Linked DNA regions of Homo sapiens. The protein of the gene in region 7 interacts with the protein of the main gene of each other region in a biochemical or structural test. Each region holds a gene or a part of one and is shown on either strand. Other genes may lie near its edges. The genes, in order: ARHGEF16, RASSF6, MAP2K2, FRMPD4, SLC15A5, PROCR and PSMD9.

The links.
Region 1: the proteins of PSMD9 (region 7) and ARHGEF16 interact in a test that uses a peptide from one of them, tested with the Homo sapiens proteins (one large-scale study listed by IntAct).
Region 2: the proteins of PSMD9 (region 7) and RASSF6 interact in a test that uses a peptide from one of them, tested with the Homo sapiens proteins (one large-scale study listed by IntAct).
Region 3: the proteins of PSMD9 (region 7) and MAP2K2 interact in a test that uses a peptide from one of them, tested with the Homo sapiens proteins (one large-scale study listed by IntAct).
Region 4: the proteins of PSMD9 (region 7) and FRMPD4 interact in a test that uses a peptide from one of them, tested with the Homo sapiens proteins (one large-scale study listed by IntAct).
Region 5: the proteins of PSMD9 (region 7) and SLC15A5 interact in a test that uses a peptide from one of them, tested with the Homo sapiens proteins (one large-scale study listed by IntAct).
Region 6: the proteins of PSMD9 (region 7) and PROCR form a complex in vitro, tested with the Homo sapiens proteins (one study listed by IntAct).

The regions. Positions count from the first base shown.
Region 1 is NC_000001.11:3,471,441-3,475,721, reverse strand, and holds part of ARHGEF16 (rho guanine nucleotide exchange factor 16), read right to left. Parts: intron 2,645-4,281; coding exon 2,492-2,644; intron 2,330-2,491; coding exon 2,200-2,329; intron 1,015-2,199; coding exon 940-1,014; intron 1-939. UniProt on the Homo sapiens protein: Guanyl-nucleotide exchange factor of the RHOG GTPase stimulating the exchange of RHOG-associated GDP for GTP. May play a role in chemotactic cell migration by mediating the activation of RAC1 by EPHA2.
Region 2 is NC_000004.12:73,578,326-73,582,606, reverse strand, and holds part of RASSF6 (ras association domain-containing protein 6), read left to right. Parts: exon of another isoform or gene 1-1; intron 2-316; coding exon 317-418; intron 419-738; coding exon 739-790; intron 791-4,281.
Region 3 is NC_000019.10:4,103,222-4,107,502, forward strand, and holds part of MAP2K2 (dual specificity mitogen-activated protein kinase kinase 2), read right to left. Parts: intron 1-4,281. UniProt on the Homo sapiens protein: Catalyzes the concomitant phosphorylation of a threonine and a tyrosine residue in a Thr-Glu-Tyr sequence located in MAP kinases. Activates the ERK1 and ERK2 MAP kinases.
Region 4 is NC_000023.11:12,715,188-12,719,468, forward strand, and holds part of FRMPD4 (FERM and PDZ domain-containing protein 4), read left to right. Parts: intron 1-881; coding exon 882-1,946; intron 1,947-2,313; coding exon 2,314-3,603; intron 3,604-4,281. UniProt on the Homo sapiens protein: Positive regulator of dendritic spine morphogenesis and density. Required for the maintenance of excitatory synaptic transmission. Binds phosphatidylinositol 4,5-bisphosphate.
Region 5 is NC_000012.12:16,274,353-16,279,336, reverse strand, and holds the start of SLC15A5 (solute carrier family 15 member 5), read left to right. Parts: upstream 1-1,651; coding exon 1,652-2,012; intron 2,013-2,811; exon of another isoform or gene 2,812-3,144; intron 3,145-3,485; exon of another isoform or gene 3,486-4,812; intron 4,813-4,984. UniProt on the Homo sapiens protein: Proton oligopeptide cotransporter.
Region 6 is NC_000020.11:35,174,845-35,178,416, reverse strand, and holds the end of PROCR (endothelial protein C receptor precursor), read right to left. Parts: coding exon 3,464-3,572; intron 2,250-3,463; coding exon 1,971-2,249; intron 1,720-1,970; coding exon 1,604-1,719; 3' UTR 1,055-1,603; downstream 1-1,054. UniProt on the Homo sapiens protein: Binds activated protein C. Enhances protein C activation by the thrombin-thrombomodulin complex; plays a role in the protein C pathway controlling blood coagulation.
Region 7 is NC_000012.12:121,898,193-121,902,473, reverse strand, and holds part of PSMD9 (26S proteasome non-ATPase regulatory subunit 9), read right to left. Parts: intron 2,841-4,281; coding exon 2,629-2,840; intron 1-2,628. UniProt on the Homo sapiens protein: Acts as a chaperone during the assembly of the 26S proteasome, specifically of the base subcomplex of the PA700/19S regulatory complex (RC).

The DNA.
Region 1 (4,281 bases), on a different chromosome or scaffold from region 7:
TGTCAGCGCTGTGAAAGGCCTGGGATGGATAATCTGGGAACCTCTGGGCCTCAGTTTCCCTGTCAGCGCTGTGAAAGGCCTGGGATGGATAATCTGGGAACCTCTGGGCCTCAGTTTCCCTGTCAGCGCTGTGAAAGGCCTGGGATGGATAATCTGGGAACCTCTGGGCCTCAGTTTCCCTGTCAGCGCTGTGAAAGGCCTGGGATGGATAATCTGGGAACCTCTGGGCCTCAGTTTCCCTGTCAGCGCTGTGAAAGGCCTGGGATGGATAATCTGGGAACCTCTGGGCCTCAGTTTCCCTGTCAGCGCTGTGAAAGGCCTGGGATGGATAATCTGGGAACCTCTGGGCCTCAGTTTCCCTGTCAGCGCCGTGAAAGGCCTGGGATGGATAATCTGGGAACCTCTGGGCCTCAGTTTCCCTGTCAGCGCCGTGAAAGGCCTGGGATGGATAATCTGGGAACCTCTGGGCCTCAGTTTCCCTGTCAGCGCCGTGAAAGGCCTGGGATGGATAATCTGGGAACCTCTGGGCCTCAGTTTCCCTGTCAGCGCCGTGAAAGGCCTGGGATGGATAATCTGGGAACCTCTGGGCCTCAGTTTCCCTGTCAGCGCCGTGAAAGGCCTGGGATGGATAATCTGGGAACCTCTGGGCCTCAGTTTCCCTGTCAGCGCTGTGAAAGGCTTGGGATGGATAATCTGGGAACCTCTGGGCCTCAGTTTCCCTGTCAGCGCTGTGAAAGGCTTGGGATGGATAATCTGGGAACCTCTGGGCCTCAGTTTCCCTGTCAGCGCTGTGAAAGGCTTGGGATGGATAATCTGAGAACACTCGCTGCCCTGGAAGGTAGGGGAAGCCAGCCCTATGCCATCGGGTAGGGTGGGGTTGGGTGGGGACAGGGTCGGGGTACAGGACTCGGGTAGGGCTGGGGCCAGGCCCCATCTTACCTTGCTGATGGCCTTCAGTGCACGGCTGGCAGCCTTGTACCTTTCGGAGTGGCCCTGGGTCTTGAGGCAGAGCGTCTGGATGGACAACAGACATGGGACAGAAAGTCCCCTCTGGCATCCCAGGTGTGGAGGCTCCCACCAACGCCAGACCCCGTGTGGGGCTGCAGGGTGGTCAACAGCTGCCCCCAGGGGGCTCCTGCAGGGCCCCACAGCACGTACAGCCCCTGAACGGCCTCTGCACCACCTGGAGCTCTGCCAGGTCAGGCCAGGTTGAGTGGGAACAGGAGCTAGCACCCCTGCCTGGAACCCTTCCCTTCCCATCCTCGGCCATCTCCATCCAACTTGGGGAATCGTCAGTGGAGGCCCCCTGGCAGCCCCATTTCTGCACATCCCTGGGGCCCCCAGGAGTTTGAGGTTCTGTTTGGCTTGGGCAACCCTGCCATGTGTAGCCTCAGGAAGCTTAGCTCAGTCCTGCCATGTGCGGGGCTGTGTGTATGGGCAGCATGCACATGTGTGAATATGCCTGTGCACCATGTGCATGCATGTGTGTGCATCCACGTGTATGTGTGTGCACCGGGTGCATGTGTGTGCAGTGCCTGTGTGTGCATGTATGCAAACGTGTGCATTGTGTGCACATGTGCATGCATCGGTGCAATGCAGTGTGTGCAAGTGTGCATGCATGTGTGTACTGGCGTGCATCCATACATATGCATTGTGTGCACATGGGCACATACGTGCCTGAGTGCGTGTACACTGTATATACATGTGTGCGTGTGTGTGTACACCTTTCACCCTCATATACCCTCTGCCCTGTGGGCTGGCATCCCACACACACAGCCCATGCTGGTGAGCCTCTCTGAGCCCCTCTCTGCGTCCACAGAACAGGGAGAGTAGGTGCCAGGGACAGGGCTACCACGTCTAGGAGGACTGGTGGGGTGGGGGCTGGGAGGAGGCTCAGCAGGGCTCTGGGTGATGCCAGTTCCAACTCGTCAGTGTGCCTGAACCTCATGAACCATTGAGTAAGTGAACACAAATCCGCCAAGGGCTGGAACAGTTCCCGGCACAGTGAGCTCTGTGGGTGGCGGCGACCACAAAGTTATCCTGGTTAATAAAGCCATCTTAGGATCGTAACTATTACAATATCATAGGCCAAGCCTGGAGGAGAAGGTCACAAGCACGTAATGCTCCATCCGGGGCAGGGCTCTGGCCGTGGGACCCCAGGATGGTATGCCCGGCCCCACCCTCAGGCCGTGGACTTACATCCATCAGGAGGGGCAGCCGGGTCACCCGCTGCATGGGGAGGATCAGGAAGGAGAGCATGGGCAGGCCCCCGCACGCCGGCCGCCTCTCAATCTCTCTCAGGGCCTCTCGGAAGGCGGCGTTGCTGCTTCTGCAAGAGGACAAGGCTGTCCTTCCAGGCTCTGCATGGCCAGCCTGTACCAAAATCAGGCAGGACCTGCAGAAGCTGGGCTGGGAGCAGGAATGTGCTTTGGGAGACCAGGGTGCAGGATGCTCCTGAGCCACCCTGCGGGCCTCGGGGCCGCCCACTCACATCAGCTTCTGCAGCGTGCGCTGTTGGTAGACCTCGTTGGAGCAGTAGGCGATGTAGGGGTGGAAGTGCTTCTCAGCGTGCTCCTCCAGGATGTCACTGATGTCCTCGACCAGCACCTGGGCCTTGTGCCGCTGCTCCAGGTCCTCGAAGAACCTGAAGGCAAGGAGGGGTGAGGAGGGTGCCACGGGCCTGGTGGTCGGGCCCCACGTGTGCACACACAGACATGCATCTGCATGCACACTCACACATACATGGACGTGGCAGGAGCTGAGCTCAGCTCCCAGAGGCAGCACACAGCAAGCACTTGGGGCGGGACCCGGACCTGGGATGCTGGACAGCAGGGAGGGCGGGTGGGAAGTGGTCAGAGGCCTGGGGCTCCTTACAGAGCCCCCTGCCACGATCCCACGCACTGGTGCCGTCCCTCTGTTGTCCAGGGGCAGCCCCAGGGACTGTCCCCAAAGGCGGGCCCATTTGGACCTCCTGTCCTGGTGCCCTGTCCAGTTGGTGCCCTTCGCCCTTCAAGCTCCTTCCAGCTAAAACGACTGGGCCTCCACACAGGCCCGGGCCCCCGCTGCCGCACCAGCTTGCCCCTGGGAAGAAACTCAAGGACGGAGACTCAGGGGACAGGCACAAGAGCAAAGAGGGGCGATGCCTGGGGCCACCCCTTCCAAGGATGAGTCCCAAATCCGAGGCAGCTCTGCTGGTCAAGCTCCCAGCTGGGTTCATGAACTGTTTACTTTCACTAGGTCCCCCACCCCGTTCTGAGGGAACAGTCAAGGCCGGGGGGGGGCCAGCTGTGGGCTCTTGGCAGACTCCCTGGAAGGGGCTACCAGCCCCTCACCTCCCCATGACCCAGGCCTTGGTCCAGGGTGATCAGGATGAAGGGAGTTAACACTTGGTCAGAGCTAGGCCAGGGCTGCCAGGATTCTGCCCCCATGGGCGGCCACGGCCACCAAGGCTGGGCTTGGCTGGACCCACGATGGTCACCTGCTGTGTGAGGCGGTGGCTGGAGCCTCGTCCATCCTGCAGACCCTCAGAGCACCCAACCCGAGACCACATCCGTGTCTCCAGGCCGCCGCCACAGGAGGTCCTCCCAGCCCAAGAGCTCTGTCCTTCGGAGGACTCCCTTACCCAGCGTGGAGGTGGGCGGGAGTCCCTCCTCCTCTGCTCACGGGGCCCGACTGGGCCTGCCACCCACGCAGGAGCCACGCTTCCTGCAGGGAGAGTGTCCTGACAGCTGCTTGCCCTTGAGAATCCCCAGCAGATGGAGCTGCAGTCCCCGTGGACGAGGACCCAGCAGGTCATGGGAGGCCTCGGTTGCTGGATGAGCAGGGCCACGACATGCGTACGTGCCCAGGCCGGCCAGGCCGGTCAGCAGCTCATATGGGTGACTGCAGGTTCTGAGAAAGGTCTGGGAGAGCCGCCCACCAGCCGCTTACCCCAAATAGCGATGATTCCCCAGACAGTTCACTGTGAATGCCAGGAGCTGTCGGGGGCCCAGCTGGGGGAGGAGGCCGGAGCTTCCCGCCCCAGGGCAGCAATCTAAAGCCCTGAGGAGGTCAGAGGCAAACATGCAGCTGCCTGAGGCAGAGGGGACCGGAGGACACAGAGCTCAGAGAACACAAAGCCTGCCTGGCTGGGGGCAGAGCTGGGGGAGGGGCAGCCGCTATCCCAGACCCCTCCCCCTCCCCCAGCCCCATCCCATGCTGAGTCAGAGGTTGGGAGTTTCCCATAGCTGGTCCCTGGAGCTCTACAGGAAGCCCCTGTCTCCAGGGACAAGGCGGCTCCCT
Region 2 (4,281 bases), on a different chromosome or scaffold from region 7:
ATATGCATCTGGTGACATTCTTTCTTACTTATTTTGAAATCTTAAACTGCACTAAAGAGGGGTGTAATTGTCCAGTGAAAATGTTATAAGCATCCTCAAATGGTGTTTTACCTAATTTACTCTAGAAACAATATAAAGCTGCTTAAAAGAACACATAATATTCAAAAACAACAAAGAAAAACAAACAAAAACAAAACAAATTTTTTAAATTAATGACCTTGGATTTTTTTTGCCCTATAAGAAGATTATGTTCAAGATATTGAATACCCTTAATATAATATAATTTTAAAGACTTATGTGACAATTCTTTTTCTAGACATCAATTTTCATTCCAGCCTTTGAATCAGAAACTAAGGTCAGAGTAAACAGTAACATGAGAACTGAAGAAGTAATAAAGCAACTTCTCCAAAAATTTAAGGTAACCTTTATCACTTAACTGAGCTATAAATATATTATATATAATTCAACTATAAACACACAAATCCACTCTTCTGAAACAGATCTATAAAGGTGTAAATCTAAATTGGATGTTGAGCACTGAAAGATTCTTTCCTTTGTATAACACCTTTTAGTAACTATCCCTTGAAAAATTATATAATTCCCATAAGAGCAGAGAAGATTTTATGTCTAAAAGTGAAAAATGGAAGAGAGAAAACAGACATGATTTGGGTCTGGTCAGGTTAGAAAACATCATATAACAACAAAGAATTTATATTTGTTCATTTTTTCCCTTGACAGATTGAAAATAGTCCCCAGGATTTTGCTCTTCACATTATTTTTGCAACAGGAGGTAAGAAAGCTTGATCACACTTTTTACCTGACTCTAGAGTGCTACAGTTTGCTGCCCAGGGGGAAGGCAGAAGAACAGTTTGCCTCATTCTGTGGAGAAAGGGGAGGAATGGGTAGGAGAAAAGGAAGGAGTGGTCTTTAGAACATTATCTATAGTCCACAATTTTAAAGAAAGATAACTTAAGAATAAGGTATCCCTGAAGGGTTGATTATATGAAAGAGTTTGCTTGTTGGCCAGACATTAAATTATCTAAATGGAGATCAAAACCCTCTGGAACTGTTTCGGCACTTTTGTCTTTGCTCACCTCTGTAACTTTCTTTTTGGCTTTCCTTTCTGAGTGTTGCTCTTAGAGGAGTCATGATTGCATACCTGTTCTCTCTGACATTGATATTGCCTCTTTTTTAGCACAGGGTCTGACACATTGCGGGAGTGCTATCTCTTCCTCAGTAGAGATGCATATTCAGAACTTCGTGGTGAGGGGTGAAAGGTTAGAAGCAGAACATTGGGAAGGCGCTGTAAGTGGGATGCTAGGAGCATAATAGAGAGAATAGAGAAAACTTAAAGTGATACTGAAATGAAAGTTTTTAAAACTTCACAAATGAAAAATTTTATATATCAATTTGTAGAAAAAACTCATGCTATAATTTAAGTGTCAGAATGTTCAAGCCAGAAATTTATTAGAATAAAATAATACATTTTGATGCCAGAACACCTTAAGAAAATGAAAGCTGTATCTCTAAACATATATAAAATTAAAGTTCTTATAATTGAAAGCTTAAAGATCTATAATTAAAGACTTAAACGTTAGACCTAAAACCATAAAAACCCTAGAAGAAAACCTAGGCATTACCATTCAGGACATAGGCATGGGCAAGGACTTCATGTCTAAAACACCAAAAGCAATGGCAACAAAAGCCAAAATTGACAAATGGGATCTCATTAAACTAAAGAGCTTCTGCACAGCAAAAGAAACTACCATCAGAGTGAACAGGCAACCTACAAAATGGGAGGAAATTTTCGCAACCTACTCATCTGACAAAGAGCTAATATCCAGAATCTACAATGAACTCAAACAAATTTACAAGAAAAAAACAAACAACCCCATCAAAAAGTGGGCAAAGGACATGAATAGACACTTCTCAAAAGAAGACATTTATGCAGCCAAAAAACACATGAAAAAATGCTCACCATCACTGGCCATCAGAGAAATGCAAATCAAAACCACAATGAGATACCATCTCACACCAGTTAGAATGGCAATCATTAAAAAGTCAGGAAACAACAGGTACTGGAGAGGATGTGGAGAAATAGGAACACTTTTACACTGTTTGTGGGACTGTAAACTAGTTCAACCATTGTGGAAGTCAGTGTGGCGATTCCTCAGGGATCTAGAACTAGAAATACCATTTGACCCAGCCATCCCATTACTGGGTATATACCCAAAGGACTATAAATCATGCTGCTATAAAGACACATGCACACGTATGTTTATTGCGGCATTATTCACAATAGCAAAGACTTGGAAGCAACCCAAATGTCCAACAATGATAGACTGGATTAAGAAAATGTGGCACATATACACCATGGAATACTATGCATCCATAAAAAATGATGAGTTCATGTCCTTTGTAGGGACATGGATGAAATTGGAAATCATCATTCTTAGTAAACTATCGCAAGAACAAAAAACCAAACACCGCATATTCTCACTCATAGGTGGGAATTGAACAATGAGAACACATGGACACAGGAAGGGGAACATCACACTCTGGGGACTGTTGTGGGGTCGGGGGAGGGGGGAGGGATAGCATTAGGAGATACACCTAATGCTAGATGACGAGTTAGTGGGTGCAGCACACCAGCATGGCACATGTATAGATATGTAACTAACCTGCACATTGTGCACATGTACCCTAAAACTTAAAGTATAATAATAATAAAAATAAAATAAAATAAAATAAAGATCTATTTTTTGGAAAATTCTAAGGACACATATATATTCATATTCTAGTTGTTTAGGAAAGAAAGAAAACCAAAAGATATAAAATAAATGGTAGCAATACTGGACTGTGTAACAATTTAAAAGATACAAATAGTAGATTACAAAGAATATTGTCAATGTACTCCAAAGATTAATAACTATAATACCAATAATTTCCTACAAAATGGTAACAAAACAACAGACAATCCGATAAAAATAGAAAAAAGCATGAAAATACAATTGAAAGGAAAAACCATAATAACCAGTTAAATAGTTTTAGAAAAGTCTTAAATTCAGTGAAATGCAAGTAGCTAAGGAAATGCAAGCTCAAGCCACACCGTAATATTATCTTGCACTTCTCAGATTGGCAAAATGCTTTAAAATGATTCTACCCATGGCTGGCATGCATCAGGGTAAAAAGATATTTTTATGCAACACTAGTGAAAATATGACTTTCTTCTTATTGGAATTTATTCTTGCAATATTTATTAAAATTTACAGTATATATGTCCTTTAACTTGACCATTCCATTTGTGAGAATCTATCCCACAAAAATATAAGCACTAGTGCCTACAGATTTATGTGTAACACTGTTTATAAGGACAAAAAGCTAAAGACAAAGTTACTCATCCTAGGGAAATGATTAAATAAGTGATTGTTAGGCTGCCATTGAATGGAATGAGTAGATTTATGCCAATAGAATGGAGGGAGTTCCATAATATATTTTAAGTGAGAAATGCAAGATGCCTAAAGGTATATATAAAAGATCCCATTTTTTAAACAGTTACAAGCTCCCATTTAAGTATGTGGTATATATGGTCTTATGACTAGGGAGAAAGGTATGGAGTGATAAATACAAAACCATTGAGATAGATTACCTGGTGGGGGATTGGGGAAATGCAGATGAGAGGATGAGAAGGGGGGTGTCAGGCACGGTGGCTCATGCCTGTAATCCCAGCACTTTGGCAGGCCGAGGTGGGCGGATCATTTGAGGTCATGAGTTTGAGACCAGCCTGACCACTATGGTGAAACCCCGTCTTTACTAAAAATACCAAAAAAATTAGCCAGGTGTGGTGGCGCACACCTGTAATCCCAGCTACTCAGGAAGCTGAGACAGGAGAATCGCTTGAACTCAGGAGGCGGAGGTTGCAGTGAGCTGAGATCGTGCCATTGCACTCCGTCTAAAAAAAAAAAAAAGAGAAAAAATGATTTGTTTAAAGGTGTGTACAATAAAAATAGCAAGCACGATATGATTACCTTTATGTATTATGAGTTGTGTGAGGGGGACACTCAAAGGGTAATGCAGAGTATCTCAGGGCTTGGAAATTCCAGTTGTGCTTTACTTCCTGCTTTATACTTTTCTCGTTTGTTCCAATTACAATAGCATGCATGTTTGGGGAAGGGAATTTTTTTTTAAGTTTAAAAAAAGCAGTTTTATTAAGAAGTCTTAAATGATTGTGTGATAACTTGAACAGCTAGGTTGTACAAGATTTGAAAATTCCCTCTTTGG
Region 3 (4,281 bases), on a different chromosome or scaffold from region 7:
GAGTCATCATGGGTAGGCTGGTCCCCGGGTGTGGCCCCACATCCATGTCATAAATGATGAAACAGAAATTCCATGTCTTGCCCAAGGCTGCCTGGCAACAAACCTGGGGACCAAAACCCCCAAATGCCAAAACCCCAGGCACTGGGAGCCACCCAAGGTGCCTCTTCAGAGGCAGAGGCTCCGGACACACCTGCCAGGCCACCCCCAGGACAGCAGGGGTGACAGGCCAAGTTCCCACTGCCACCGTCTGGCGTGCGTCTCTTCTGTGCTCAGCAGAGAGGAAAGTGGAACTGAGGCTAGAGAGGGCGGGCTGGAGGAGCCTGGAGAGGCTGGCTGGGGAGCCTGGATTTCCCCACCATGCTGCTCCAGGACTCCTGCAAAAGCCCAGCCTTCCCTGGGATGGCTTTCATTCACATGGGTGGGAGGAGCCGGGGGAGAAATCCTGGGACTCAGGGGTGCCCGGGTTGCCGCTCTCTGGCCACTTCTGCCCAGCTAGGCTTGGAGAGAAAGGCCGAAGGCAGTTCTAGAAAACCCAACACGCTTTGAGACCTCTAAAGCATACACGTGACTCCATCCACCAGCTCCAGGCTGAAGACGCAGACACACAGGGTGAGAGGGCAGGTATGGCCAGGGCTCAGACAGCCCAGGAGGAGGTGCCAGGACGGGAGCTCCAGTGAGCCAGGGCCAGGTGGAAGCTGCTTCTATTCTCAGTTTTTATCAATCTACCTTAAAAGAATTACTTAAAATGAGGCCGGACATGGGCTGGGAGCGGTGACTCACGCCTGTAATGCCAGGACTTTGGGAGGCTGAGGCAGGCGGATCACTTGAGGTCAGGAGTTTGAGACCAGCCTGGCCAATATGGTAAAACCCCATCTCCACTAAAAATAAAAAAAATTAGCTGGGCGTGGTGGTGGATGCCTGTAATCTCAGCTACTCGGGAGGCTGAGGCAGGAAGATCACTTGAACCTGGGAGGCAGAGGTTGCTGTGAGTCGAGATCGTGCCACTTCTCTCTCGCCTGGGCGAGAGAGCAAGACTCCTCAATTAAAAAAAAAAAAAAAAAAAGCCGCACGTGGTGGCGCACACCTATAATCCTACCACTTTGGGAGGCCAAAGCAAAAAGAATGCTTGAGCTGAGGAGTTTGAGACCATCCCGAGCCACACAGTGAGACCCCATACCAAAATCAGCCGGGCGTGGTGGTGCACGCCTGTAGTCCCAGCTACTCAGAAGGCTGAGGTGGGAGGATCCCTTGAACCTGGGAGGTCAAGGTTGCAGTGAGCCGAGATCACACCACTGCACTCCAGCCTGGGTGACAGAGCAAGACCCTGTCTCAAAAAAACAAAAACCAGAAAGAGACCAACGACTCGAAAGAGGCAGGGTGGCGAAAACCAAACAGACGCACCAAACGCAACCCTAAAACCCCTGCTCCCCAGCACAGCTCCTTCCGTCTTCGTTTCTCCTGGGGCCGCAATCAATGTTTGTTTAGTGAGAAAATTCAAAGAGCCTCTCCCCGGAGATGAGGGCGGGCGGAGCGCTGTGCTGCAGCCTCAGGAGCTGGTGGAAGACGCCTCACAGGAGCATCGCTCTCTCTGCAGCCGCCTTTCTCCACTGTGACATCGGGGCCAGGTCACTCTCTGGGGTGGGGCCGACCTGGGCACTGCAGGGCGCTGAGTAGCGTCCCTGGCCTCCATCCACTCCACGCCAGGAGCATCCCCCAGTTGTGACAACCACACACATCCCCAGACAGTGCCAGGTGTCTCCTGGGAGGGAGAACTGCCCCTGGTTGAGAAGGGCTGATCTCCAGCTATAAAGACCAAAGTCTGGCAGGGTAAGCAATTTGTCTGAGTCACAGAGACAGGATGTGGTGCAGGGGGTATTGCAGCTGTGTACTGCTGACCCCAAATCTCACTCTGTGCATGACCATACACGTCTACCGTGTGTGTGTGTGTGTGTGTGTGTGTGTGTGTGTGTGTGTGTGTGTGTGATGTTTAAAATGGTCTTGTAACTGTAATTTTGTTACGTAGGTAGTAGGTGAACACATTTTTCTTTCTTTTTTTTTTTTTCCTGAGGCGGAGTCTCGCTCTGTTGCCCAGGCGGGGGTGCAGTGGCACCATCTCGGCTCACTGCAAGCTCCGCCTCCCGGGTTCACGCCATTCTCCTGCCTCAGCCTCCTGAGTAGCTGGGACTACAGGTGCCCGCCACCACACTCGGCTAATTTTTTGTATTTTTAGTAGAGATGGGGTTTCACTACTGGTGTTAGCCAGGATGGTCTCGATCTCCTGACCTCGTGATCCGCCCGCCTCGGCCTCCCAAAGTGCTGGGATTACAGGCTTGAGCCACCGCACCCGGCAAACACATTTTTCTTATAAAAAATTCAAATGAGGATAAATAACCTGGACGCCGCATCACTTCCACCATTCCCCCCTCAAGTGTGACTTATATTGTTCCAGATCTTTCTTCATCTCTCTCTTTCTTTCTTTCAGGCAGGGGTCGCCCAGACTGCAGCATAGTGCTGTGATCTTGGCTCACTGCAGCCTCCACCTCCTTGGTTCAGGCAGTCCTCCCACCTCAGCTTCCCAAGTAGCTGGGAGTACAGGCGCGCCACCATGTCCTGCTAATTTTTTGTAGAGACGGGGGTTCCTCATGTTGCCCAGGCTGCTCTCGAAGTCCTGGCTGAAGAGGTCCTCCCACTTCAGCCTCCCAAAGTGCTGGGATCACAGGAGTGAGCACCTGGCCCCCGCATCTTGCTGTGTATTTGGAAACACAGACTCGGGACTCACTCTCTTGCCCAGGCTGTAGAGCAGTGGCTCAATCATAGCTCACTGCAGCCTCGACCTACTGGGCTCATGGGATTCTCCCAAAGCACTGGGATTAAAGCATGCTTGCCCAGCCAGAGTTTAAAACAACATCGAAATGGGCTCATGTCTGTAATCCCAGCACTTTGGGAGGCCGAGGCAGGAGGGTCACTTGTGGCCAGGAGTTCAAGACCAGTCTGGGCAATATGGAGAGACCCTATCTCTACACAAATAAGCAAATAAATTAGCTGTGCATGGTGGCTCACGCCTGTGGTCTCAACTACTCGGGAGGCTGACGTGGGAGGACAGCACCAGTACACTCCAGGCTGGACAACTGAGCAAGACCCTGACTTGAAAATACAATAAACAAATGAATGGGCCAATGCTATGTTTATTTTATTTTTCTTTTATTTTGAAATGGAGTCTTGCTGTCGCCAGGCTGGAGTGCAGTGGCATGATCTCGGCTCACTGCAACCTCCGCCTCCCGGGTGCATGTGATTCTCCTGCCTCAGCCTCCTGAGGAGCTGGGACTACAGGCGTGCGCCACCATGCCCAGCTAATTTTGTATTTTTAGTATAGATGGGGTTTCACCATGTTGGCCAGGATGGTCTTGAACTCTTGACCTCGTGATCCGCCTGCCTTGGCCTCCCAAAGTGCTAGGATTACAAACGTGAGCCACTGCACCCAGCCCATGCTATGTTTATTTTCTACAACCACCCCTCCACTACATGAATAGTGTTGTACTGTGGGGATACTCCCATTCAGTACACCATTGTGGATTTCACTTTGCCACTGCAAAGCAGCCAAATATCATTCTTTAATCACTCCCTTACTGATGGACATGTCCAGTTTCCATTACAGTAGAACAAGACGGGCATTCTTCAGCAGATAGGACGAGACCCCCAGAAAGGCCAAGGGGCACCTCTACGAGGTCCGTAAGCCACTGGCTCTCCTTTCCCCATCCCATGAGGCCCCACTGTCCACTGGGTTCTTGCCCCGAGTTATCCAGTAATAGGTTCAGACCCCAGGGAAGCAGCCAGCCCCACTGTTCCTAAGTTCCAGTCACCAACAAGTGCTTGCCATTTTATATAAATACATCACTGGGCACGGTGGCTCACCCCTGTAATCCCAGCACTTTGGGAGGCTGAGGCGGGAGAATCGTTTGAGCCCAGGAGTTCAAGATTAGCCTGGGAAACATAGTGCCATCCCATATCTACAAAAAAACTTGCCGGGCGCGGTGGCTCACGCCTGTAATCCCAGCACTTTTGGGAGGCAGAGGCAGGCGGATCACGAGGTCAGGAGATCGAGACCATCCTGGCTAACACAGCGAAACCCCGTCTCTACTAAAAATACAAAAAATTAGCCGGCTGTGGTGGCGGGCGCCTGTAGTCCCAGCTACTCGGGAGGCTGAGGCGGGAGAATGGCGTGAACCTGGGAGGTGGAGCTTGCAGTGAGCCAAGATTGTGCCACTGCACTCCAGCCTGGGC
Region 4 (4,281 bases), on a different chromosome or scaffold from region 7:
CAAATCTCCACATCAAAATTCCAGATTGAAAGATGCTTGAAGAGCAAACAAAATAATAGTATTTAAATTGGGGTTTTGTAATTTTAATCCATGAGGAACATGAAACAAATTTTCAGGAGTTCCTATGATACAAACAAAAATTGAAATTAATCTAAATATTAATTATGCTTAGAAATTACAGAGAAAAGTACGTTACCTGTGACCATGCCACCTTATGCATTTTATACACACACACACACATATACACATGGGCATGCATGCTGACATTTATACATGAATATTTTAACATCCACTAGGATATCAAAAGACTGAAGATAGAAGTTTTGTACTATCATTACAACATTTATCTTAATTTCCTAAAAACTATGGTAAAACTCTGACGATCCTTGACCGTCTCTGAATTCAATGAGGAAAACACTCAATATCTTCCTCCATGAAGTAGGGAATATTAAATCTCACCTTACAAGGAAAAGAACAATTAATGTTCTGGAATAACGGCCTATTGAAATCTCACCTTTAAGGGTAAAAGACATGTTGTATATTTACATTTGTAGATATGAATGAAGCCTTTTAATAATAGAACCAAGGGTCAGATGGAATTAAGCTATACTTCCCTACCCCCAGATGGTATTACATTTTATCAAATAGCAATTACAGTTTATGCAGTATCAATTTTGTTAAGGTCGGTTCTCCTAACCCAAGGAATTCTTACACCTGAAGCCTAAATCAATAAGTACTATATTTGGGTAGTTGAAAAACTGTATTTACATAAGTGATGCTACAAGCCATTAAGTTAAAAAACAGAGACGAGCCTCCCACCCCCGCCCCACCCAAAACCAGACAGTACAGTAATGTGTCTTTGCGTGATTCTTTCTCTTTAGGACCTGAAAACAAGGGGAAGCATAACCTCCTTGGCCCAGATTGGAACTGTATACCCCAAATGACCACCTTTATTGGCGAAGGGGAACAAGAAGCCCAGATAACATACATAGATTCAAAGCAGAAGACGGTGGAGATCACAGACAGCACCATGTGTCCAAAAGAGCACCGGCACTTGTACATAGACAATGCCTATAGTTCAGATGGACTTAACCAGCAGCTGAGCCAGCCCGGGGAGGCCCCCTGTGAGGCAGACTACAGAAGTCTAGCTCAGCGGTCCCTATTGACCCTCTCAGGACCAGAAACTCTGAAGAAAGCACAGGAATCTCCGAGAGGAGCTAAAGTGTCCTTTATTTTTGGAGACTTCGCCTTGGATGATGGTATTAGTCCCCCAACCCTTGGCTATGAAACGCTACTAGATGAGGGTCCTGAAATGCTGGAGAAGCAGAGAAATCTCTACATTGGCAGTGCCAATGACATGAAGGGCCTGGATCTCACTCCAGAGGCAGAGGGCATCCAGTTTGTGGAAAATTCTGTTTATGCAAACATAGGCGATGTGAAGAGCTTCCAGGCCGCGGAGGGGATCGAGGAACCCCTCTTGCATGACATCTGTTATGCAGAAAACACTGATGACGCGGAGGACGAGGACGAGGTGAGCTGCGAGGAGGACCTCGTGGTGGGGGAGATGAACCAGCCGGCCATCCTCAACCTGTCTGGGTCAAGCGATGACATCATTGACCTCACATCCCTGCCCCCTCCAGAAGGTGATGACAATGAGGATGACTTCCTGTTGCGTTCCTTGAACATGGCCATTGCCGCACCCCCACCTGGCTTTAGAGACAGTTCAGATGAAGAGGACTCTCAGAGCCAGGCAGCTTCCTTCCCCGAGGACAAGGAGAAAGGCAGCAGCCTGCAAAATGATGAGATCCCCGTGTCCCTCATTGACGCTGTGCCCACCAGCGCCGAAGGCAAGTGTGAGAAGGGACTGGATAATGCCGTCGTCTCCACGCTGGGAGCTCTAGAGGCTCTATCCGTGTCAGAAGAACAGCAGACCAGTGACAATTCAGGTTCTTTCACAATTGTTACATTCATTCACTGATAACCATATCATTCCATCCTTCCAAGCCATTTGCCCCTGGAGTCCTGTTACGTGGTGTTCTCCATTTCACACATGTCCCATTTCATAAATGTGCTGAAACTGCCATCATGGGTTTTTTTGTGTGTATGTGATTTCCTTTGTTATTTTTTTTTAAAAACATAAGGCACATCTCCCCCCACCCCCATTTCTGGAAAAACTGCAATAAACTCAGAGTCCTTACTGAAAAGGGAAAAACTTGGTATTTTGTTTTAGTAATAACGAGTCCCATTTTCTTACATGTCTCCAAGTGCCTCTGATGCATCCATTAATCAGTTCTTGTTTTTTACGGCATGCAGGTGTAGCCATCTTGCGGGCTTATAGTCCTGAGTCTTCGTCAGACTCGGGCAATGAAACTAACTCTTCTGAAATGACTGAGAGTTCTGAACTGGCCACAGCACAAAAACAGTCAGAAAACCTCTCCCGCATGTTCTTGGCCACTCACGAAGGCTACCACCCCCTTGCAGAAGAGCAGACCGAGTTCCCGGCCTCCAAGACCCCCGCTGGGGGCTTGCCTCCAAAGTCCTCGCACGCCCTGGCTGCTAGGCCAGCAACCGACCTCCCGCCCAAAGTTGTGCCTTCCAAGCAGTTACTTCACTCAGACCACATGGAGATGGAGCCTGAAACTATGGAGACTAAGTCGGTCACTGACTATTTTAGCAAACTGCACATGGGGTCGGTGGCATACTCCTGCACTAGCAAAAGGAAAAGCAAGCTGGCCGATGGTGAGGGGAAGGCACCCCCTAATGGGAACACAACAGGAAAAAAACAGCAGGGGACCAAAACGGCAGAGATGGAGGAGGAGGCCAGTGGTAAATTTGGTACTGTGTCTTCACGAGACAGTCAACACCTGAGCACTTTTAATCTGGAGAGAACTGCCTTTCGCAAGGACAGTCAAAGATGGTATGTGGCCACTGAAGGTGGGATGGCTGAAAAAAGTGGATTAGAAGCAGCAACAGGGAAAACCTTTCCAAGAGCTTCTGGTCTTGGGGCAAGGGAGGCCGAAGGGAAGGAAGAAGGAGCTCCTGATGGAGAAACCAGTGATGGCTCAGGACTTGGTCAAGGGGACCGCTTCTTAACTGACGTGACCTGTGCATCTTCAGCCAAAGACTTAGATAACCCAGAGGACGCTGACTCGTCCACCTGCGACCATCCTTCCAAGCTTCCTGAGGCTGATGAGAGTGTGGCCCGCCTTTGTGACTACCACTTGGCCAAGCGGATGTCATCACTGCAAAGCGAGGGCCATTTTTCTCTGCAGAGCTCCCAAGGCTCTTCAGTGGATGCAGGCTGTGGCACAGGCAGCAGTGGCAGTGCCTGTGCCACACCCGTGGAGTCGCCGCTCTGCCCCTCCCTGGGGAAGCACTTGATTCCTGACGCTTCTGGGAAAGGCGTGAATTACATTCCTTCAGAGGAGAGAGCCCCTGGGCTTCCCAACCACGGAGCCACCTTTAAGGAACTGCACCCACAGACAGAAGGGATGTGTCCACGGATGACAGTGCCTGCTCTGCACACAGCCATTAACACCGAACCCCTGTTTGGCACATTGAGAGATGGATGCCATCGGCTCCCCAAGATTAAGGAAACCACAGGTACAGCAATGATGGATTTAGCACTTTGTATGACATGCCAAGAGCATGTAAACCATATTTACAACAAACTTAAAAACGTAATGTCTGGAAGAAAAGTAAAAGGTAGAATTTTAAAAGGCCACAGAACTGTAAAGTACCAATCATTGATCCCCTGGTATTTAATAAATACTAAAGATTATAAAGGTGAAAATGGCATTTGCTCTTTATAATCTTACTCTGTGCTTGCTTTCAGAATTGGATGGGGCAATATGTTTTTCCTAAATTCTAAATGCAGATGTTTAGCAATGCCCAGTGTGACTTTTAGTTATATGATAGTATTGCTTAGAGTCACATAACAGTTTGATTTTCTTCCCAAGACATCTGAGTTCTAATTCTGCCATTTCATTATTGAGGGACAAGGAAGGATAAGAGAGCAGGGTATCAGGGAGATTGGAGGGGTTTGGAGAGATCATTTGCCTTTCGGCAATCTTACTGATTCCTCCCTACTCTGTAAGACTGCTCTATATGGATGTTCTGAAGTGTCTTGCATACCCCAGTGTCAGGAAGATTTTGAGGCTATTCCTGATGAGCTGCTTTATTTTCCCCAAAATAATAAAGTGTAAACACACGTAGAAAAAAGAACACATCCACCTTCTGTATCCCACCTTCACCACTCCACCACTCAATGGCAGGCATTCC
Region 5 (4,984 bases), about 110 Mb from region 7:
CTTTTGCCTTCCGTCATGATTGTGAGGCCACCCCAGCCAGGTGAAACTGTAGGTCCATTAAACCTCTTTCCTTTATAATTATCCAGTCTCGGATATGTCTTTATTAGCAGCATGAAAACAGACTAATACACTGCCATCTGAATAACTCAGCTGCCACCATGCCCATTCTTAAGTCATTCCACTCAAGATTAAAATTCCACAGGAGAAAAGTAAAAGGACTATCTTAGACCGGGTGTTGACCCACTTGGTTAGAAGAAAAGGCATATGCTGATCAACAGCCCCACCATGATCTCAGGTAATAGATAGGAGTCATTCTCCAAAGGTAGGGTGAACACATGTTAGAGTGTTGCCCTGGACAGTCCCAGTTTATAACTGTTTTTTTTTTTTGGGGAGTAACCATAAATAGCATCACTTTTCACCTGCACAAAACTGTCCAAGTTTGGATCATAAATTGCATGATCAATTTACACAAAGGAAATTTAGGGCATCGTTACCAAAGTAGCAATGCTGAGCAGAGACAAATAGCTACCATTACAATGAGGCTATTAGAAGGGGTCAAAACAGAGTATTTTGCCCCCAGTCTCTCACAACCAAAAGATGATAACCAGAGTCAAAAGTCCCTATTGGTCTTTAGGTTTTGACTACAGCATGAAAATAACATTCCTATACTCAAGTGTTGAATTATTATGACTTTGACCCAATAGTTCCGGTCCCTTTTCTTCCTATGTCCTTGCAGCTAAGCCACTAAATGTTAAGGTGTTCTCTTTCACTGCTGCTTTTTTAGCTTAATTGGCCCTCCTGCTTTCCAAAATAGAATGCTAACACCCATTCACCCAGCTGAAGGGTCAGGGTGATACCAGATCCAATATTCCCCAAAGCCTGTGTAGGCTGGTTGCTGTATCCCTGACTACTGATTAATAATAAAGGAGTTAAATAGCACCTTTTGATTCTGATTTCCTCTGAGAGGCTGTTCTACAAGCATGGGGTCAACTAAAAGGAAGCAGGGTTTCGTTTAATATTTTCTCCTTTCATTAGTGCACTTAAATTACTTTCTTGTAAACTCTGCTTGTTACCTAAATGTACTAGCACTTTTGTTACCTAATTAAGTTTCTTATCAGAATTCCAACCAAAAATAACAAGAAATGTAATAATGATAAGATATCGTGCCCTTCAAAACAGATTTCCTTTTGCGCTTTATCTCTTGGTACTGTTCTGGCTTGTTTAATTAAAGTATCAGAAATTATTAGACTCAAATTATTTCTTGATCTAGTGCTCAAATTCTCCCGAAAACCTGCTTCTTCTGCCTCAATATTTAAACCTTTATCAGTATGAGGCAGATGAGTTTCCACATGTTTGCAACTGGATTCATGTAATTCAATACAATTTTGGAGGACGATCCTAATTTAGCCGCTAAGTAATTAAGCAAACAAATCAGATTTGGGTACACTGAGCTACTGTGAACATTTAAATACTCATGCTCTTGGATCATCAAAAGGAACAACGTCCATGTGCAAAAAACAAACCTTATGAAATTCTAGCATGGAGATGTGAAATTCAAAGCAACGTTCTTATTTTTTTCATCAGAGGGATGGGGCTCAAAATATCACCAAGTTCAAACCACTAACATAAGTTTTGTTCAAGGAGGGTAGTCATGTCTGTTACAGGCTTTACCATAACTGATGAGAAAGTACACTTATATCACAGCATTGAGAAGGAGAAAACTGTAAGACATATTGGCGATTTGTGTTCCTCACACTCTGTGAAAAAAATTCAGGTTGGAATCTGCTTGCTTCTGGTGGAGCTGTGTGAGAGGTTCACGTTCTTTGAAGTCGTCTGCAACATGATCCCCTTTTGCACTATCAAGCTTGGCTATCACAATTGCCAAGCAGCCATCTTAAACTTGTGTTTTATTGGAACTTCAATACTTACCCCTGTGTTTGTCAGATGGCTCACTGATGTCTATTTAGGAAGAAACAAACTGGTGTACATTTGCTTGTTTCTACATTTTCTAGGTGAGTGTCCTCTGCTGACTGGATTGTTTTGTGACTTAATTAAGTAGATTTTTGTTAGAATTTTTAGTTTATATTATTTTCACTCTGCTCTTAGCATAAAATGTGATAAATGAAGTAAGAATGTGGGTTCAATGTATTTCATTCTTTGTACTATTTGAAGAATGCTAGTAAGTCTGTGTGTGTGTGTGTGTGTGTTAGAGAATGTTTTGTGCCTATATCATTGCATTTATATTTTATAATAATTACTCCTTTACATATCTATCTTACTCCTTAGAATGCCCTCCTTTCCCAAAACCTTTTTACCTCAAGCCTAAATTCATGACAAATTCCCTCAGAAATGTGAAATGTATTTGCTTCACAACTAAGATGAAATGTGCTAAAAAAGGTTTTTGAAGTTCATGTAAAATAATTGAGAAATGTTTTTATCCAAAGGTGGTCTTTTAATTAGTCATATAGTAATTAAGATTGCATATGATGGCATGATTTCTATATTTTTAACTATGATTATATGCTTTAGAAATGAGTAAATTAGACACTATAGTGTGCATCTTTACATATATACTAATATATATCTGCAAAAGTTTGGGACCGATTGTGAGAAATGCTGGGAAAATATCAAGATAGTTTAATAAGAAATAGAGAGCAACTTGAAGAACAGACTAGAATTTTAAACTGAAAAGTTCAAGTTATTCTTCTTAAGCAACAAGAAGTCTCTGAAAATATCATGAAAACAACATTTGAGAAATGCTATTCTGCAATACAGGATGGACAACCACAGTGAGGAATTAAATAGAGAGAGATCAGAAAATCTCAGGATGATGGTTTAAGCAATAAAGTGCCAATTCAGGAGAGAACAAGTGAAAAGCTGTAAGGCAACTAAATAAAGGTACAAATGTGATGGGGGTCAAAAATTAGCTCCAAGTTTCTGATCTGAGCAACTTGGGAATATAGCATGCTGTTCACCAATAATGAGAAGTGCAGCTGAAATGAGTATTGGTAGGGGGACAGATGAGAAAGAGATGGATAGATATCAGGTACTCAACATATCACACAATCTCAGGCAGGTGGTAAATTACCATTCAGAGAATCCATTGGAGTTTAAGTCAAACCTGGAAACTTCACAGCTTTAGTTCTGTGGAATAAAAACTAGGTCACTGCATGGCAAATAATCACTCAACATTCAACAAATATTTCTTATTGACTACTCTGTACCAGACATTATTCTGGGTCTGGAAATGCAATAGAGAAGAAAGTCGTCTGTTCCTGCTAAAGTTGACTTTTTGGTGCAGGGAGAGAGAAAATAAAAGAGGAAATAGATATGATGTCATGTGGCAATGAGTTAGGATGGAAAAATAAAGCTGGGTAGGGGGACAGGATGGAATGGATGGTGATGAGGCTGCTACTTGGTACCGAGAAAAAGTTTTCTGATAAGAAGACATTTAAGCAAATCCCAGACTAACTTACTCTGCTTACCTTGGTAACAGGCCACACCAGTAGCATTTGTTGACTTCTTGTTTAACATGGTAATTTCTATCAGTCTAAATTCTGAGGTCAGTCATCAGACAGGATGGAAATCCCAACTTTGGAATCTGGCAAACAAAAGACTTAAGTCAACTCTACATCCATTCATTTTTTTACTAAAAGTTATTTCTTTGTTGCCCTCCACTTACAGCTGCCATCAAATTCCAACTGTCACTAAATTTCAGAGGTTATATATAAGAAAGGTCTTCTGTCTGAATTGCTACTACCCTAGCTGAAAAAATGCAGCTTTCTTCTTTTTAACCATTCCAATGGCCTACTTACTCGGCTGCCAGTTCTCAGTCAGTCTCCAGCTTGTACTCCATTCTACCAACAACACTGACTTCCTGAACAAATAAATCTCTATATTGCTTCTATTATCTAAAAAATGAAATCCAAACTTATTAATTTAGCATACAACAACCTTACCAACCTATTCTAAGTTCACCTCTCTAGACTTGTTGTTCAACACGCAACCCCAACCTTGCTAACTTCTCCTGGCCTCCTTCCCTAGTTTTCTAATCTTGTACATGCTCTTCTCTCTTTCTGAAATTGTCACCTTCCCTTATCTTTCCATCCCTTATCCATGATTGGAAAACTCCTGCTATTCTTTCAAGAACCAAATAGTGTTTGTTGCTAGCTTCTCTGTGTTCAACCACACCCATATAATACTTATACGATTGCATCCATCACTTTATAATATAATTGTCCACCTGCATGGCTGACTTCTCTGATGGACTCAACATTTCCTTCAGCGGACCCCCATCACCTGGCAGGGGGTATGACACATCATGGTGCTTCTACAGAGCTACTAAATGCAGGCATACTGATGATGAGATACACAATTGCACACATCACAGAGGAGACTTTTCTTCATATATGTCATTGTTTTGTCTCTTTACTGCATCATTTTACAACAGATAGGGATAAAGTTTTGATTTAACACAATCAGCCTATTATGACATTTTCTCAAAAGATGGAAGTAAAGTGCCTAAGTTACACAAATATATCATTCAAACTAAAAGTGCCTTGTTCCTAATAGTTCCTGCATGAAATAGTTGTCCTGTCCCTCCTCTTTGGACATCCCTTTGTCTAGCCAGGCCTCACGTCACACCTACAGAAGAGAAGACTAAGTGGTAGAAAGAGAGCAGTTAGTTTCATATCTGGCTAACCTTAAAAGGGAACATTTCAAACTCAATAATTTAAAGGGCTCACCTCATGGTAAATGAATCTGTTGCCAAATAGCTATTAAGGGCATATAGTCTTTACATTGTGAAAGCCTCTGTAGGGGAGATGGAAGCATTAGACCAAATTTTTATCTGTAAGGAATTTATAATCTAATTGAGAAAACAAATCACATGAAATAACTGTATAAAAATTTATACCAAATAACATTAATGCCAAATTAATAAAATGAAGAGCAAAACGAACATGGAGGAGCCATTTTTCACTAA
Region 6 (3,572 bases), on a different chromosome or scaffold from region 7:
TTAGAATTAAAAAAAAAAAGAATCTCACTCTGTTGCCCAGGCTGGAGTGCAGTGGTGTGATCTCAGCTCACTGCAAACTCTGCCTCCCGGGTTCAAGTGATTCTCCTGCCTCAGCCTCCCAAGTAGCTGGGATTACAGGCGCGTGCCACCAAACTTAGCTAATTTTTGTATTTTTAGTAGAGATAGGGTTTCACTGTGTTGGCCAGGCTTGTCTTGAACTCCTGACCTCAAGTGATCCTCTCGCCTCGGCCTCCCAAAGTGCTGGGATTACAGGCGTGAGCCACCGCGCCTGGCCGACAAAACACATGCTCTTAAAGATAAAATTATATTGCTTCTCCATGGAAACCACAGGTAGATAGTATTTGCAGCCATGAAGGTCAGTAGGTCACCTAGAAAGGGTATAGTTCAAACAGGAACAAAAGGAACCAAAAAATGGAATTCTAAGGAAGCCAGCATTTCCAGGGTGAATCGTGTAAGATGACATAGTCAAAGGGATTGAAAAAAAGTAGACAGAACAGTTTTAAAAATTGAAGTATGGTATCTCAGAAGTTAAGGCAAAAAGAGAGTTCTAGTCCGCAAATTTGCAGATACCATGTAGGGTGATGGTTTGACAATTAGAGGTTACTGGTGATCTCAGAGTAGTTTATAGAGAAGTCAGATTGCACTGGGTCTAAGAATGAGTGAGAAGACCAGGCGCAGTGGCTCACGTCTAATCCCAGCACTTGGGGAGGCCGAGGTAGGCGGATCACGAGGTCAGGATGGCCAACGTGGTGAAACCCCATCTCTACTAAAAATACAAAAATTAGCTGGGTGTGGTGGCATGCATCTGTAATCCCAGCTGCTTGGGAGGCTGAGGCAGGAGAATTGCTTGAACCGGGAGGCAGAGGTTGCAGTGAGCTGAGATCACACCATTGCACTCCAGCCTAGGCAACAGAGCAAGACTCTGTCTCAAAAAAAAAAAAAAAAAAAAAAAGAATGAGTGAGAAATAAGGAAGCAGAAGAAATGGGTATAGGTTACTTTTCCAGAAATTTTGCAAAGTGGAGGAGATAACAATGCCTTAAATATAAGAAATTTATTAATATTATTAATTGATTAATAATTGATCACTGCCATATGACTTGGATTTTACATTTCCACCACTTCTTCGTGTTACTTCTTTCTACCCTATTATATCAGCGTCCCATCCCAAGTCTGACACACCTGGAAGTATTGAATGTTGTATTTTGATTGTGGATGACTTGTTTATTTGGTTATATCTTTTGAACGCCTCAGGTGATTCTGTCTGTCTTTGGAGGATGGGCCATAGGCTTCCTGCCCCAACTCCATTATCTGTTTTCCACAAAGATAGATAAACATTCACTTATCAGACTAATTCAGCAAAGCATACACGTTCTTAGGTTCTTAGCAAACCAAGTACTTTGTCCACCTCTCCTCTCCATCTCCCCTCCCTCAAATCTTCAGTGGGCAGATGTGGGAGAAGAAAGGAGCTGTCACTCCAAACCTTCTGGTGTTTCAGTTGGGGAGTCTGGCTTCACAGTGAGCTGAAACTTTCCCTTGCCAGCCTCCATCAATCCAGCCCCTTCTGAGGGGGCTGGAGAGTAATTAACATCGCCGTCCACCTGTGCACAGGAAGATGCCTACAGCCACACCAGCAATGATGAAACTGCCCACCAGGACGCCCAGGACCAGCGAAGTGTAGGAGCGGCTTGTTTGGCTCCCTGCAGAACATGCAAAGAGTTAGCCCGAAGAATAGGCCCCCAAGGAGTCCATGATTTGAGTCAAACCCCAAAGCGTTTCTGCCCCAGAGGAAAGGGACCCGTTTACCAACTGACTGAAGCTGCGTGTGTTCTGTCCCAAACCCCCAGCTGTGGGCCTCTTGTTGCTCTAGGCATCCATCCTTCAGGTCCATCCATTTGTCTGGAACCCGCCCTCTCCCCAGCTTGCAGGCCTGGGCCCCGTCCCATCATACCTTTCGTGTTTTCCGCGGAAATATGTTTCTGCACATACTGCACACAGGTGTCCTCCAGGAATTCCCGCAGTTCATACCGAGTGCGGTTGTAGGCATTGAGCTGCTGCAGGGTGAAGGTGACCACTCCGGAGGTGACCTGGGTGTCTGCCTGCCACAAGGCTCTCTCCGGCCGGAAACTCACAAAGGAGCTCCCATTCACAGCCACTTCGAAGAAGACATGGGCTCTAGAGCCCTCGGGAGGCAGCTCACAGCCCAGGAAGCAGCGGATGGTCAGAGGAACTGTGGATAGACAGTCAGGGTCAGGGGACTGTGCAGAGAGGGTGCCAGGTGTGGGGCGAGGCCCACCAAGGGGAAAAGAACATGAGAAGGCAAGAGTCAGTGCTGTGAGGAGAGGGGAGTCTAGGTCAGGGAACTATGGGGAGAAGGGCCTGGGGCTGTGAGGAGGGGTTTGGGGTTAGCCTGTTAGAGGCTAAGAAAGAAGGGGCCAGGGACTGTGATGAAAAAAGGGAATTGTCAGGCCTTGTTCAACTGTAATAGAAAAAAAAAACAGGGGGTGAGGCTGGGGCAGGGGCGGCAGCTCACGCCTGTAATCCCAGCACTTTGGGAGGCCAGGCTTGTGGATCGCCTGAGGTCAGGAGTTCGAGACCAGCCTGGCCAACATGGCGAAACCCCGTCTCTACTAAAAATACAAAAAATTAGCCGGGCGTGGTGGCGGGTGCCTGTAGTCCCAGCTGCTTGGGAGGCTGAGGCAGGAGAATCGCTTGAACCCGGGAGGCGGAAGTTGCAGTGAGCCGAGATCGCGCCACTGCACTCCAGCCTGGACGACAGAGCAAGACTCCGTCTCAAAAAAAAAAAAAAAAAAAAAAAAGGGGGGTGGGGTGGGGGACTAGGAGAGAAAGGAGTTAAAGGCCATGATGGTGGGGGAAGGGGGACGGAGTGGTGCTTGGTGCTTTGAGAAAAGAAATTGGGGTCTTTGAGAAGAAGGAGTTAGGGTTGTGACGGGGAAGGAGTGGGGCTTTGAGAGAAGAACTTGGGGTCTTTGGGGGAAGAGTTCGGGTCATGAGTGGAGCTAAGAGCGAAGTCATCAGCTTGTATGAGAAGTGGCTGGAGGGTGGGGGGTGAAGTGCTGGGGGCTGTGGGAAGGGAAGGACGGAGATCTATGAAGAAAAGGAGTTGGAGGACTGTGAGGCGAGGGGTGAGGAGTTTTCTGGGGACCTTCGACGTCACGGTGTCAGGGCCTTCCAACAGGGTCTATCCCAAGAGGTTATGCCAGCAGGACGACCGCCCGAGTCGGGGCTTTCTTAGCGGGGACAACTGCCTCTCTCCAGCCCCCACCCAGCAATCTTCAAAGGCCCAGGCGCCACCGAGCTCCAGTGGCTGCCGGGTCCCTGCAAGTCCCAGCCCGCCTCCATCCGCCAGGCCCCGCCCCCACCCGCCAGGCCCCGCCCCCACTAGCCCCGCCCAGACCCCGCCCCCGCTGCGCGCCTACTCACAGGCCAAGGTCCGCTCCTGGTGCACCAGGCGCACGAGGCCGTGGAACTGGAGCAGGTAGGACTGCAGGCCACTCTGCGTGCGCGCCCAGCTCTCGGGCTCCTGCAAGGG
Region 7 (4,281 bases):
ACTGGCACTGGGTTAGATGCAGTAGATGGGGTAGTGAATGATAGGGAGCTTCTGTGTAACTTACAGACTTGTGACCATTAAAGAAGACTGGTAGGACCAGGGTTTAGGACCCCATTCCACCTGGCAGGAACTATGTGTCCTGACCAGGGTTTAGGACCCCATTCCACCTGGCAGGAACTATGTGTCCTGACCAGGGTTTAGGACCCCATTCCACCTGGCAGGAACTATGTGTCCTGACATAAGTTACTTCAGGTCTGCAAGGCTTTTCCTCGAGGATGAAATGAGTAAAGATTAGGACCTATCCCAGAAGTGGCTGTGGAATTAAATTTAACTACATCTCCACAAAAAAACTGTACAAGAATGTTCGCAGCAACATGCTTCGTAATAGCCAAAAAGTGGTAACAATTCAAATGTCCATTAACTGACAAATGGATAAATAAAATATGATATATCCAGGCAGTGGAATATTATTTGGCCATAAAAAGGAATGAAGGGCCAGGCACAGTGGCTCACGCCTGTAATCCCAGCACTTTGGGAGGCTGAGGCGGGCGGATCACGAGGTCAGGAGATCGAGACCACCCTGGCTAACAAAGTGAAACCCTGTCTCTACTAAAAATACAAAAAATAAAAATTAGCTGGACGTGATGGCAGGCGCCTGTAGTCCCAGCTACTCGGGAGGATGAGGCAGGAGAATGGCGTGAACCTGGGAGGCGGAGCTTGCAGTGAGCCGAGATCGTGCCACTGCACTCCAGCCTGGGCGACAGAGCGAGACTCCGTCTCAAAAAAAAAAAAAAAAAAAAAAAAAAAGAAGGAATGAAGGGCCAGGCATGACAGCTCATGCCTGTAATTCTAGCACTTTGGGAGGCCGAGGAAGAAGGATCGCTTGAGGCCAGGAGTTCAAGACCAGCCTGGGCAACATAGTGAGAACCCATCTCTAAAAAAAAAAGGAAATAAAAAATTAACCAGGCATGGTTACATGTGCCTACAGTCCTAGCTGCTTGGGAGGCTGAGACAGGAGGATCACTTGACTCTGCGAGTTTGAGGTTGCAGTGAGCTATGATGGCACCATGGCACTGAAGTCTGGGTGAGAGAGTGAGACCCTGTCTGTAAACAAATGAAGCACTGATCCATGCTCAATACAGATGACTTGAAAATTTGCTAAGTGAAAGAAGCCAGTCATAAAAGGTCACATATTATATGATTCAACTTATAGGAAATATCCAGAATAGACAAATACATAGAGACAGAAAGTAGATAACTGGGTGCGGGGAGCTGGGGGATTGGGAAGTGATGGCAAATCACTACAGAGTTTCTTTACAAGACAATGACAATGTTCTGAAATTGATTATGGCTGGGCATGGTGGCTCATGCCTATAATCCCAGCATTTTGGGAGGCCAAGGTGGTAGAATCACTTGAGCCCAGGAGATGGAGACCAACCTACGCAACAGAGCGAAACCCCATCTCCTTTTTTTTTTTTTTTTTTTTTTAGACAGAGTCTCACTCTGTCGCCCAGGCTCTGGAGTGTAGTGGCACGATCTCCGCTCACTGCAACCTCCACCTCCTGGGTTCAGGCGATTCTCCTGCCTCAGCCTCCCGAGTAGCTGGGATTACAGGCACATGTCACCACACCCGGCTAATGTTTGTATTTTTAGTAGAGATGGGGTTTCGCCATGTTGGCCAGGCTGGTCTTGAACTCCTGACATAAGGTGATCGCCCACCTAAGCCTCCCAAAGTGCTGGGATTACAGGCGTGAGCCACTGCACCTGGCTGCAAATTTTTTAAATAGAAAGAAAATTGATTGTGGTAATGCATGGCTCTGTGAATACACCAAAAGACACTAAACTGTATACGGACTTTAAATGGGTAAATTTTTTTTTTTTTTTTGAGACGGAGTCTCACTCTGTTGCCCAGGCTGGAGTGCAGTGGCATGATTTTCGTATTTTTAGTAGAGACGGGGTTTCGCCATGTTGGCCAGGTTGGTCTCGAACTCCTGACCTCAAGTGATCCACTGGCCTCGGCCTCCCAACATGCTGGGATTACAGGCGTGAGCCAATGCTCCCGGTCAAAAAAAAATTTTTTTTAAGACAAGGTCTCACTCTGTCACCCAGGCTGGAGTGCAGTGGCACAGTCACAGCTCACTGCAACTTCGACTTCCTGAGCCCAAGTGATCCTCCCATCTCAGCTTTCCAAGTCGCCTCAGCCTTCTCAAGTGCTGGGATTACACGCATGAGCCACTGTGCCCAGCCTAATGTTTTTTTTAAGACACCACATAAGATGCATAACTCATTTGGCAAGATGCCATTCTCATTTTCATCATTCAGTGCCCAGCTAAAATGAGCCCCAAGAAGAGATCCTCTCCCTCTCTTGGGACATTTATCATCTTCTGTCACTGGGAAGAGGTCACTCCCCCACCAATGTAGTGGGCAGCCGGGGCTGACCCCTCTCTAAAACTCTGCCCCCAGCACAGGGCTGGATACACGACAGGCCTCAGTCAGTGTTTGTTAAATGAGTAACTGAACTCAGCACCGCAGCACGGAGAGAACTAGTCTGTCTTTCCACATCCCCGAAGGCTACCTGACCCACCGTGTCCCCTGGGCATGGACTTGAGTGGCCAACCCCTGGATTACCGCGATGCTGGCTGGGGAGCCGGGGCTGATGCTGTTCACTTTGGCGAAGGCCCGTGGAGGGCCCTGGCTCTCACTCTGACCCAGTTTGCGGCTCATGGCCTCTTTGTGGGCCTCAGCCATGTCCCGGGCCTGCTTCTCCTTGTCGCGAGCGTGCAGCTGGTGCAGGGCCTCCTCCACCTGCTTCATCACTGCCTTGTGATCATTCTGCAGGCCTGGGATGAGAACCACACATCAGGGGCCAAGGAAGACAGTGGAGGACACAAGACTCCTACATTTATTCACTGAAGAGTTAACAAGTGCTTATTACATGCCAGATGTGGAGCTAGAGGTGAGAAGGAGTCTCTGACCAAGACAGAGGACATTCCCTCATGGAGCATTCAGTCCTGCAAGGAGCAGCTCCAGAATAAGTAATTACAATAACATCTGATGACTGCAGGGAGGCCTGGCCAGCAGCAAAGTCTGCCCTCGCTAGTCTAGGATATGAGGGAAGGCTTCCTGAAGGCAGTGCTGTCTCGGGTGAGCCCTGAGAGGTGAGCAGAAGGAAGGTAACAACCAGCTGAATCCACAGCCATGAACTCAAAGGCATATGTATGAGGGGCCAGCGCTGTGATCATGTGAATGAATGACTCAGGCTGGGTGTAATCAAGATTTCACTTTTCTCTGAAATCCTCTAGAAGGAAAAATGCTGCATAAGCCGGGCACAGAGGCTCACGCCTGTAATCCCAGCACTGTGGGAGGCCGAGGCAGGCAGATCACGAGGTCAAGAGATCGCGACCACCTTGCCAACATGGTGAAACCCCGTCTCTACTAAAAAATACAAAAATTAGGCCGAGCGTGGTGGCTCAGGCCTGTAATCCCAGAACTTTGGGAAGTCAAGGTGGCCGGATCACGAGGTCAGGAGATGGAGACCATCCTGGCTAACACGGTGAAACCCCGTCTCTACTAAAAATACAAAAATTAGCCGGGCATGATGGCAGGCGCCTGTAGTCCCAGCTACTCGGGAGGCTGAGGCAGGAGATTGGCGTGAACCAGGGAGGCGGAGATTGCAGTGAGCCGAGATCGCGCCACTGCACTCTAGCCTGGGCAACAGAGCAAGACTCCGTCTCAAAAACAAAACAAAACAAAACAAAAACAAAAATTAGCTGGGCGTGGTGGCGGGTGCCTGTAATCCCAGCTACTTGGGAGGCTGAAGCAGGAGAATTACTTGAACCCAGGAGGTGGAGGTTGCAGTGAGCCGAGATCGCACCACTGCCCTCCAGCCTGGCGACAAAGCAAGAATTCGTCTCAAAAAAAAAAAAAAAAAGTGCTGCATAAGCCTAGTAATCCTGGAGACATTCAGTCCAGGAGAGGGAGTCCACAGGGAGGTGGCCAAAGGGCACCCCTGCTACAGGGCTCTTGCCAATTGGCTGGGTTTGGGAGGAAGACCCAATGCTACAAAATCTTTGATTTTTCCAGAAAAGCTGAAAATTGGGATCTTTGAAGTGAAATTCTCTGATTTTTCAGTACAGATAGCTAATTCAAAATGTTGTGAACCACCATGGCAATCTGCAGGCCACGCCAGCACAGCAGCTGGTATTTTGATACCTTGTGCCTGTCAGTGGGATTGCGGTACTACCTGACCTGCCTCCTCTGCCACTGTCACTTTGGAGCAAA